Linked DNA regions of Homo sapiens: region 2 is linked to region 1. Evidence: fine-mapped expression QTL. A gene starts in region 1. The other region holds a variant in brackets. All regions are shown on one strand. Distances are from middle to middle.

Region 1 (5,373 bases):
AGACAAATATACATATCTAGTTTCTAAACATATAAATCAACAAGGAGAGATATAAAACAAAAAATGAACCTCAGACACCACGTTTTATTTTATTCAGATGGAAAGAGTTTGGATAAGTACCTAATATGTACATTCATTTAGGGAATTCTAGGCTGTTGGGACTGATCAACAAATGTCTTACCTGTAGGAGCCCTAAATTCCTTGTGAGAAATGATAAAGGGAACTTTGGAACTGACTGATGGTTCAGCCACCAAGACACTAAGATTATGACTTTCAAAAAGAAAAGCCAAAGGTTGCCTTAACTTGCAGGGGGATCTAGATCTCAAGGGCAGTGGTGCTAGACTCTCAGAGGCACACAAGAATATAAAAAAATCAACAAGTAATACCTTAAGTCCGAGCATCTAGCCGTGGAGGACTAGTTTGATTCAGGGAGAAATGCTATCCAAATGACTCCAGGTGCTGCCACTCAAAGGCCCTCTGACCCAGGCCAGCTCCTAGGGAATCGTTTTTAAAAATTCTTAAAAGGAGGGGAAGGAAGGATTACAGAGCAGGGGAAGAGGGCAGCGCTAGACTTAGCAGCCTGGGCATTGAAGAAGGACTAAAATAATTGTTTCTAGTGGGGAAACCTCTAACAAATATGGTTATCGGAGCTACAGACTGGGTGCTAGCAGTGGCAGGAGCTATGTGACTAGCAGAGCAGGGACACCAGGGGAAAAGAAGGAGGGGCTTATGTGGAGGCTCAGAGAGAACACTGGCCAGTGGCTCCAGCTGAAATACTCCTGGAATTTGGAATTCTCACCTAAATCCTGATCGCCAAGGCTAGTGTGACTTGGTAAAGCAGGAGTGGCCACTGACATCTCCTCACACAAAATCAATGGAACTGGGGAAAGAACAAGGACTACCCCAACAGCTAAACCTGGAGGCATCTCCCTGATAATGACTTCCTGCAACTATGGGTTAAAAAAAATCCAGCCTTAAACATGGTGAACCATGTTGGTGAAGAATGGATACGTGGTATAATGAAGTCCATGGAAGTCCAGGTATCCAGTCCCAGAAAAAGCCAGGGAAGAAGTGTTAAGTGATACTGCAAGCTCAAGATCTGTGCTCATCAATAGGCTTCAAACAACTTCATTTCCTCTCCACGCAAACAACAAAAAAAGGCTTTTAAAATGGTGGCTTTCCTGCAACTGAGAAATGTTTTAAAGAAAGTATAGTGAAGCCTGGCTACATCTATCTCTATTTACAACAGAGTGCTTTTAATATTCAAGTCTAAGTAAGTAAACAGACAGTTGAGAGATTTGCTATTTTGTCTTACTGAGATCCTGCCAATGAAGAAAGTAAATACTCTTGAAAGCAAATGTTTAACTGAGAACTAAACCAAATAAAGTATGGTTGAGAATTTTTAAGTGGTTAATTGAAAAAGACCAAACAAGACCGTCTGTAATTTTCCAAAAATATAGACTGCTTCAAATAGAACCTACGTCCAGTTCTGGGAATCAGCAAATCAATTAGAATCGCATCTGATCAACTTTATGCCCCTTAAGTAGTTTTAAAATTTCAGTACTCAAGTACAATCAATGATGTAATCAGCCTCACAACTTAGTTATTTGCATGAACTTCAGGAAATAACGGCTAACACAGCCCCTTTTGGACAACAGAAGTAATTTTTTAGTTGGAAGAAATTTAATGGAGTTATGGTTCAGTTGCTGTTTACAGCTTGAGAATTAAAACGTTGGGTTCACTCTATATTCAAGAAGACATCCATCTCAAAACCTTTTTTCATTTAAAACTAATCTGTAACTGCAATATGAATACAAATGCAAGTTTTAAAAATTCTTTTAAAATGAGAATAAAAACCTACAGCTTATAGAAACTGTAACATTGTAACAATACGTTTAAAACTGGTCATTGAATGTAGGATTCATAAGTACACATTTTCTCATCTAGTAATTTTTTTGGCATAAGTTTCAGTTCAGGAAAAGTTCAGATGCAACATTTTATGGAGTGTTAAATATTTCTGTACTGGGCAAAACTACTGAACTTCATGGTCACTACCACACCGTCAGCTGTCTGTGAAAAATCTACTTGCAGGGCAAGTTAACAGGTTTCTATGGCTCAAGTTTGCTTAAAATACAGAACAAAAAAAGTCACCTTGGCATGAATATAATTAAGAAATCAGCCGTGTGCTTCTCACGTTTGGGCTCCGAGACGTGGGAGATGCCCGCTAACCTAAGACCTTCCGAGGGCGATGCAAGGACCCGGACAGAACTTTCCCGGCCGCAGACCCCTTCTAGGGCACACCTGGCCTGGCGCGGCCGCGGGGGCCTCGGGGCTGCGCGCGCAACCCGCCCGAGGAACTGTCAACGGCCGCGGAGCCTCGGCAGCCTCGGCGGCTCCGCGCGCCCACAGCCTGGGGAGCCCCGGGAGGCAACGGCAGCCGCGCGGCTCGGGGGCCGGGGTTCCAAGGCGCCCCCGCCGCCCTCGGTCCCCAGTCCGCCCCTCGGAGCCCGCCACGGCCTAGCGCCGCCCGCCTCACCTGTGCGGCCCCGGCGCCTCTCCCGCCGCCGGTCGCTCTCGTAGAAGCCCAGCGTCTCTGTGAGCTGAGGCGCCGGCGGGGGCCCCTGTCCGCCGCTGCCGCCCGGCTGCTCCGCCTCGCCGCGGCCGTCCCGCTGCGGGCCGTCCACGCCGCCACCGCCGCCTTCTCCCGGAGCGGCCGCGTCGCCGACGCCCGCCATGTTCCGAGCACAACAAACTGTCCCCGCCGCCTCCCTCCAGCCTCTGCCTCCGGCCGGCCCCCTCCCCGCCTCGCCCCGCCCCTCGCCGGAGCCCGAGCCGCCGCCGCCGCCGCCGCCATCCGCGGCCCGCCGACCGGCGCGAGCCATTGGCGTCAGCGACGCGTGTGAGGCCGCTGCCGCCGCCGCCGCCGCCACGGTAGCCGCCATCTTCTTCCTGCCCTCGCCGTGGCGGGCGACGGTTTCTCGCGCCGTGGCTGGCTCGGCCGGCCGGGGCACCGCGCCGGGCTCCATGCAGCCGGGCTGCGCGGTCCCGCAGAGCGGGCGCCTCCGGGGCTCGAGTCGGGGACCCGGCAGGAGCGGGCCGGGGATGGCGGCGGCGGGCGGCGGGTCGGCCGTGGAGCCCCGGAGAGGCGGCCGCCACCACCGCTGCCCGCAGTCTGCGAGGTGTCCGGCGGTCCGCTCAGGGCCTCTTTTGCAGACTCGGTGCCCGGAGTGCGCCGGCGCCGCCCGCCAGGTCTTGGCACTGCTGGCGCGGCCGCGGCGGCGGGGGCCCGGCTCCAGATCACCGACCCCCACGAGCGCCGGCCCTGCCTGCCCGCTATTTTGGTTCCATCTCTTCTGCATATTTATGCTTGCCTGTTACATTCCCTGGCCTCTGAGTGTCCTTTGGCAGTTTCCAAAGCATTTGGGCAAGAAGGAGCTTGGGCAGCTTCACAACAGGTGGGGACGCGCAGGGGAGGGGCCGCGGCCGGACCGGCAGAGTTTCAAGGGCTGGCGCGCCGGCGGACTTTCCACACTGTCTTTCGGGACTGGGGTTAGGAGACAGCCCTTGGCCACCACTGTGTCCTTACTTTGTCGCTTTACTTGGGGCTGGACCTCCCCTTTCCAGCTCTGGCGTGTGACCCCGCAACGAGCGTGGTGTCGAGACCACCACCAGCTGGGGCGGTGGGAGCGAAGGTGCCCCAGGCTCGGGGAAGGTGGAAACCTTTTCCCCGCTCCCCAAGTGATTGTTGCGCGCTCCGGTGAGGGGACAGTGGTACCTCGATTTCCCGTGTGCCAGCTTCGGGACTCAGCTGTGCTTTTGTGTCTCTTTGATTAGCAAAAGCAAAACGAATTCCTCCCCGAACACTAAGCTTCCTGGAAACTTCCCTAGACCTAAACTTGAGAACCGCATATAAATGGGCCTTGAGGGTTCTGTCGTCAGTAGCGGGTTACGTGATTGCAAACGAGCAAGTTTAAAACGGAGTGGGCTTTGGGCTGCAGAGCCGCCTGGCATTCTGACAGCTGAGCAGGAGGCAGAGGTGAGAGTCCAAGATGGACTAAAAATGTCCCAGCAGCTGGGAGCCCAACCTCGGCCCAACCTCGTTGAAAGGAGGAACATTCGGTGCAGCCGTCGGAACCTTATTATTTATGAAAGGGGACAGCTCACAGGATTACATTTTTCTAAGCCAATCCTGTGACCATCCTCCATGAAATTCTCTATTTTGGTTGCATGTGGTCAAAACTGAGCCTCACTGAAACAATTGAAAACAAATACTCCCGACAAATCTTAAGAATCGTTTTGAAAATCAAAAGGTGGGGAAAATGTTGTGGCTTCTGAGCTTTCTTCAGCCCATATTCTATTATTCTCTGATGTTTTATGGTGTAAAATCATACCCATTCCATTATGTATTGATTGTCAAGAAGGAAGTAGGCTTTTATTGCTATTTTTATGTCAGTTTCCATTTACTGTCTCACCACATTTATTGGGTTATTGCCTTTGCCTTTGACTCAACAGGAGCTGGAAGGGTAGGAATCCCAAATTCTGTTGCCTAAGGCAGCCAGTTGTCAGAATGGACTTTCCTCATTTTCTATTATGAGGCCTGAGGAAAGACATTCAGTTCCAAAGGCTGTGCCTATCCTTTTAAATAGAAGAGAGAGGGCCCGGCACGGTGGCTCACGCCTGTAATCCCAGCAGTTTGGGAGGCCGAAGGGGGCGAATCACGAGGTCAGGAGTTCCAGACCAGCCTGGCCAACATAGTGAAACCCCGTGTCTACTAAAGATACAAATATTAGCCGGGCGTAATGGCGGGCGCCTGTATTCCCAGCTACTCGGGAGGCTGAGGCAGGAGAATGGCTTGAATCCGGGAGGCGGAGGTTGCAGTGAACCGAACCGAGATCGCGTCGCTGGACTCCAGCCCGGGCGACAGAGTGAGACTCCGTCCCAAAAAAAAAAAAAAAAAAAAAAAAAAAAAAAAAAAAAAAAAAAAGAAAAGAAGAAGAGGAAGCAGCCGTGCCAAAAAAAAAAAAAAAAAGAAGAGGAAGCAGCCGTGCCGAGGCTAGGTACTGCCTAAAGAAGCGGGGGAACAAATTGGAAATGTGGGAATGCGAATGTGGGCAAGTTGAGGAACTTGTAGCTTCTCGTCGGTTGAATCTTTTCACTGAAGCTGCTTTATTATATCTGACATGTGAAACTACACAATTTCAAACAAACCCATATTGAAGTCAACATACAAAAAAGCATTTAAAAAACAACCATTAGTAAAAATAATTTTTTCAGTTAACGCTATTCTTCCCTTGTATAGGTGTTGATAATCATATAATCAAATAGCTTATTGCATATGGAGAGTTGTTTTCTTTGAGTTAATTCAACGTATTG
Region 2 (5,373 bases), 21 kb after region 1:
GCTCTCATTTAATATCAGGCCCACCTGGGAAGAGAGAATTTGCTGACATTAATGTGTGAATGGCATCTATACTGGACACTGCCTTAAGAACAGACTCTGATTGCACAAAGGAGAGAGCATATGTGATGATACCAAGTTATGGAAGATGGGCGTATCAGTCAGGGTTCTTTAGAGGGACAGAACTAATAGGAGGTATATATAGGAGCTTGTTAAGTAGTAACTAACACGATCACAAAGGTCCCACAGTAGGCTGTCTACAAGCTGAGGAGCAAGGAGAGCCAGTCCGAGTCCCAACACTGAAGAACTTGGAGTTTGATGTTCAAGGGCAGGAAGCATCCAGCAGAAAAGAAAGATGTAGGCCAGGAGGTTAAGCCAGTCTAGCCTTTTCACATTTTTTTCCTGCTTTATATTCTAGCCATGCTGGCAGCTGATTAGATGGAGCCCACCCAGGTTAAGGGTGGGTCTGCCTTTCCCAGCACATTGACTCAAATGTTAATCTCCTTTGGCAACACCCTCACAGACACAACCAGGATCAATAATTTGCATCCTTCAATCCAATCAAGTTGACAATCAGTATTAACCATCACAGTGGGAGAGGATATCTTAAGATAAGGCTGGGAGTAAGACAAACATTTCAGACACTTACCGGAATGTCTCCCAATCTCTGCAAACATAGCATGCCTCAAACCTTGGTATTCTTTTCACCCTGAAGCTGCTGCTCTATCTCTTATTAATTCTAATTCCCTTCTCCTGGGTCACTGAAACTGGAAACCTCAGTTCTTTTTATTTATCTCTTTGCCTTACCTATATTCACCCTCAAAATGTCATTTGTCCTCTGTTTTCTATTTTAGTCATTACTGCCCTAGAATAGTCCCTCAGCATTAGGGGGGCAGAAAAGTAGCCAGATCCCCCTTGGTTTAATTAATTGCCCTGTACTTACTAGCTTTGACTCTCTGGGTAACTTACTTAACCTTCTGTGCCTCAGTTTCCTCATGTCATTTGAGATGCCAAAGAGTATTTGTCACATGCAGTCAGAGTGAGGATAAAATGTGTAAAATGCTAGGGATAGTGCCTGGCTACGTAATAAATATATAATAAGCACTAGGTATCATTTCAAAAGACTACTAACTGGTTTTGCTGCCTTCTCATCTCACCAATCTATTCCCCAGAGAGTGTGCAGATTGGCCTTAACAATACATGTGAACAAAGCACTTCCTGCTGGAACAATTTCCATGATCCTCTGGACCTTCTCAAGCGGCTTTCAGGCTGTCTTCCCAGCCTTATATACTGCCACACCCTAGCAGGTAGTCTGTGCTTGCCTGGTCCCACCACTGCCATCTGCATCCACATCTCTGTGCTGTCCAGACTCTTTGCCTGGGACTTTTTTCTTCTTTTCTACATGGCCATCTACTTATCCTCTCAGGCACAGATCAGACATTCTGCACTCAGTGGAAACTTTGCTGACCTTCCCTGCCTCATCACCAAGTGGTATTGGTTGTTTCTTTTTCTGTAGTCCTGTGGCAATTTGTATATCCCTCAAATTTAGCCCACCCACCAGAATGAACCATGTAGCAGCCCGAATGGACATTAACCTTATGGCATCCACACCTCGTAGGTGGGGAAGCTATGCCCTTCCTGCCCATCTCGGGTCTCACGGACTTCCTTGTGATCACATTGCCTATACCCTCCCTCATGGCATCACAATACCCTCCTGGCAGCTCTTAGCACAATCTCTAAAGGAATTGAGGGAAACATTTTTCAGTTTGTAGATAAGAGTAGGTGAGATAGAAAGTGAGAGGAATGAGTTTGGGGAAGCATGCCTCTATGAGTTGAATTATCTGATTGTATGCCATGTGTCTCTTCCAACAGCTTTCAGAGACCATTTGTTTGTTTGTTTGTTTGTTTGTTTGTTTTTTTGGTTTTTTTGAGATGGAGTCTCGCTCTGTCACCCAGGCTGGAGTACAGTGGCGTGATCTCAGCTCACTGCAACCTCTGCTTCCCGGGTTCAAGTGATTCTCCTGCCTCAGCCTCTTGAGTAGCCGGGACTACAGGCATGCACCATCACACCCAGCTAATTTTTGTATTTTTAGTAGAGACTGGGTTTCACCATATTGGCCAGGCTGGTCTTGAACTCCTGACCTCAGGTGATCCATCCTTCTCAGCCTCCCAAAGAGCTGGGATTACAGATGTGAGCCACTGCGCCAGGCCAGCTTTCAGAAACTTTTTAATACAAGTGTCAAACTCTAGAATGTTTCTACACCAGGGATTTGCTTTCTTATTTTTGTGCTCACTTCCCTCCCTGGGAGGCAGTCAAGAGAGAGTACAGAATAAAAGCCTCTGATACATGAAAATAGAGATGATGTTCTCCACTTGGGTTACAAAACCCTGTATAGAGGAGAGAGCTGTGGACTCTGCAGTTGTTCACTCTGATGCTCCTTCTTTTAGCAATGTAGCATGGATACTCACATCTAAATTGTTACTGTTCTATGTTGAGTTATTATTGTCTTTCAGGAAAAAGCTACTGAATCCAACTGTGTCAGGAAGCGTTCCCAGGAAGTAGAGCCTGAGGCAGGGGTTGTTGTAAAAGTGACTTATTGAGGGAGTGCTCTCAGGACAAGGGGAGTGAGAGAAGAACAGGGTGGGAAAGAAGCCCAAGTGTGGATGTTGTTTTGGCTGGGGATCAAATTAGCCTAGATCCCATGGAGAGCCCTCTGGAGCATGAATTGCATGACAGAGTTGGACTCCTCTTAGGGTAAGGAGTATGGTCTTTAAACCCTTATGTCGGTCAGTCATTGGCCCCAGTCTTCTCTGAAGGAGTTGAGGTGGAAGTGTGATCTGAATGAAGCAGCTCCTTTTTGGTTGAGACAAATCTCTGATGAACGGAGCACCAGTGGCATCTACCGTACCGACCATCTTGGAGCCAAGAAGTGGGGAAAGAAGACAGATTTGAGGATATGCCGACTGCTCAAAACACAATCTTACTGAGGTACCTTCGAGA[T/G]GCTGACATGGGGATGGGACAAGTGTATGTGCATGTGGTATCTGGATGTGGGAGTCTGTGATGGGAGAAGGAAGCCACAGAATTTTCCAAGATATATGGTATGAGACCCAGGCCCTCTTGGTAGAATGTTTAAGGGATGATGACTTCAGAAGACATGAGGGCCTGACAAAAGTAAGCCTTGGACATTTGATTTTTGATAATCTAGAGTCTATTTAATAAGCCGTAGCCATACTATGTCTGTACCTTGGTCTAGAAATAATTCACTGTGATGATATTATGCTTTCTATTTAATTTAATTTGTTTATTTGGAATTTGTATTTTGGCTTTTAAAATTTAACCCATCTAAACAAGGTAATTCCAAAAGGGAAGTGGATGTGTCCAACCCTTTAATTGGGGAGCTACTGCCAGGAGTTCTGAATTGAGCTCTGTGTTGCCTGAGAGTAAAGCAAAAAGGGACTAAGCATTGGGTTATAAGGTTCTTCTTCTTCTTGTTATTATTTTTAAAGGTGCTGTAATGTGAAGAAGGACCCAAAGCCTTCTTTATCTCTCCCAATAATCTCAAACCAAATAGGTGGAACTCCTCGCATAAGTTGATTTACAAGTACCTCTCTAGATAGCTTTCAACAGTGATTCTTGGGCTCTTCCAGAGGTTCTAGAGCTGCTAATGTCTTTAAAGTAGTTTCTTGTCTGCTTCAACCTGGACTTTTGAGAGTGGATGACCTCAGAAATCTGAAGGAGTTGAAAACATACGTGGAAACATATGTGGGACTGACTTTTATATTTTTACATATTTAAAGATCTTTTTAAAGATCTTTAAATCTGTAGCTTGCTAGTTGATTGTATGACTGTAGGGCCTGTAGATATTTTTATTGCTGTTAGACGGTCCAGCATTTTGCTCCTAAAGTTTTGTTCCATCTGTTCTTCAATGGAAATTCCCATCTCTGCGGTCACCATTTTCTACATGCCTGAGTAAGATCTTCCAGAGGTAGGGTTGCACATGGTGAAAGGGCTTGAATGGGCCAAGTTTGAAGACTTTGTCCTCCAGAATGTCAATAGATCCTAAGAACTGTAGGTATTTGTGTGTGTGTATTTATGAATGAAGTCTATAGATGAAGGCATTGTTTCAACAGCCTGAAAATGGTCTCTGACACATCTGTATTTATTAGCCTCTTTCTTTCTTTCTTTTAGAAGTCTGGTGTAGAAGAAATAATAATCAGTTAATTGAGAGGGTTCATTCATTTGAGTTCTGGTTAAAGTCACAGAAGGCTCTGATCTTAGTCCTATTGACCTCTATAAAACAGCAATAATATTATTAAAGGATGTTGTCAGAAAATTAATTTTCTAAGCTGAGATATAAAGCTTTAAGATATATGTATGTGTTTATAGAGAGTTGAATTTTATACACATCTAATTATATGTGTGTAACAGTGTACCTGGCGTGGTGGAATTTTTTATTTAGAGGTGAACATAGAAAGTCATGTTGGAACAGCATCCTTTAGGTGAAGAATTGGGGCATATTTTGACTTTGGAAAATGGTATACAATTAACTGTAAAAAAAAAAAAAAGTCCTGTGTCTTAGCAAAGGCTTCTCCTCAGTTTGCAGAGGTTTGGGGAGGGAGTGGATGTATTTGAATAAGGATCCTAAAACCCTTCTGAAAGAGAAGGAAGGGAGGCACCAATTCCTACTACCAAATGTTAAAATTAGGAAACCCTGCCACAGTGGATTGTGATGGTCTTGACCAAGGTGCATGAGAGAAGAGGACAGTAAGGTCCCAAAGGCCAACTCACCACAAGGGGAAGTAGAGTCTGGCAGTGATCTGAACTCCACACAACAGCATTAACTCCAGGTTAAAGAGCTCAGTCTGGTGCACTATGAGTCTGAGTGCAGAAGATTTACAGGTAGGAGTCAGGAAACTATCAAGTTTACATGTTGCAATAAGGAGGTTAGACATTCCATGATGCTTTCAGAGCCATTGATGGGTTTTAAGCAAGGCAGTGGCTTGGTTTTTGTATGAGAGAGCTCATTTTAGTGACCAATATGGAGGATATTTTTAAGAGAAACAAGAATAGAGGCTGGGAAGCTATTGCCATGATCCACGAAAGAGGAAAAGACAGCTTGAATGAGTCAGTGGTGAAGGAAAAGATTCAAGAAGTAGGAGGTAAAGTGATCATAGCTTGGTAATTGATTGGCTCAGGGGGAGCAGTCATTAATTTGTTTGCTATTTGTGCTGTTTATTATTATTACAAATGGCAGGGATTAGAATAAGTGGCCAATTATTCTCTTCCTGTCTACTTGTTTTTAGCTGCTGGTCTCTAAAATGAAAATTATGAAGATGGAACTTTGATTAGCTTCTCCTACTTTCATAATGACTGTG

Evidence for each region.
Region 2: its variant is fine-mapped to the expression of TAPT1-AS1 in unexposed skin (GTEx, PIP 0.92).

Annotation. Positions count from the first base shown.
Region 1 is chr4:16,223,723-16,229,095 of GRCh38, forward strand. It overlaps TAPT1-AS1 (TAPT1 antisense RNA 1), which reads left to right and starts at 2,941. Exons shown (of 3, transcript NR_027697.1): 1 at 2,941-3,455. It overlaps TAPT1 (transmembrane anterior posterior transformation 1), which reads right to left and starts at 2,749. Exons shown (of 14, transcript NM_153365.3): 1 at 2,537-2,749. The coding sequence starts at 2,735. RefSeq lists silencers at 2,302-2,681, 2,792-2,841, 2,852-2,951, 2,962-3,031, 3,092-3,291 and an enhancer at 3,802-3,861.
Region 2 is chr4:16,244,800-16,250,172 of GRCh38, forward strand. All of the region lies in intron 2 of TAPT1-AS1 (TAPT1 antisense RNA 1), which reads left to right. Among named protein-coding and RNA genes, the nearest start is that of TAPT1-AS1, 21 kb to the left of the region's middle. The variant T/G (reference allele first, on the strand shown) is at 2,999.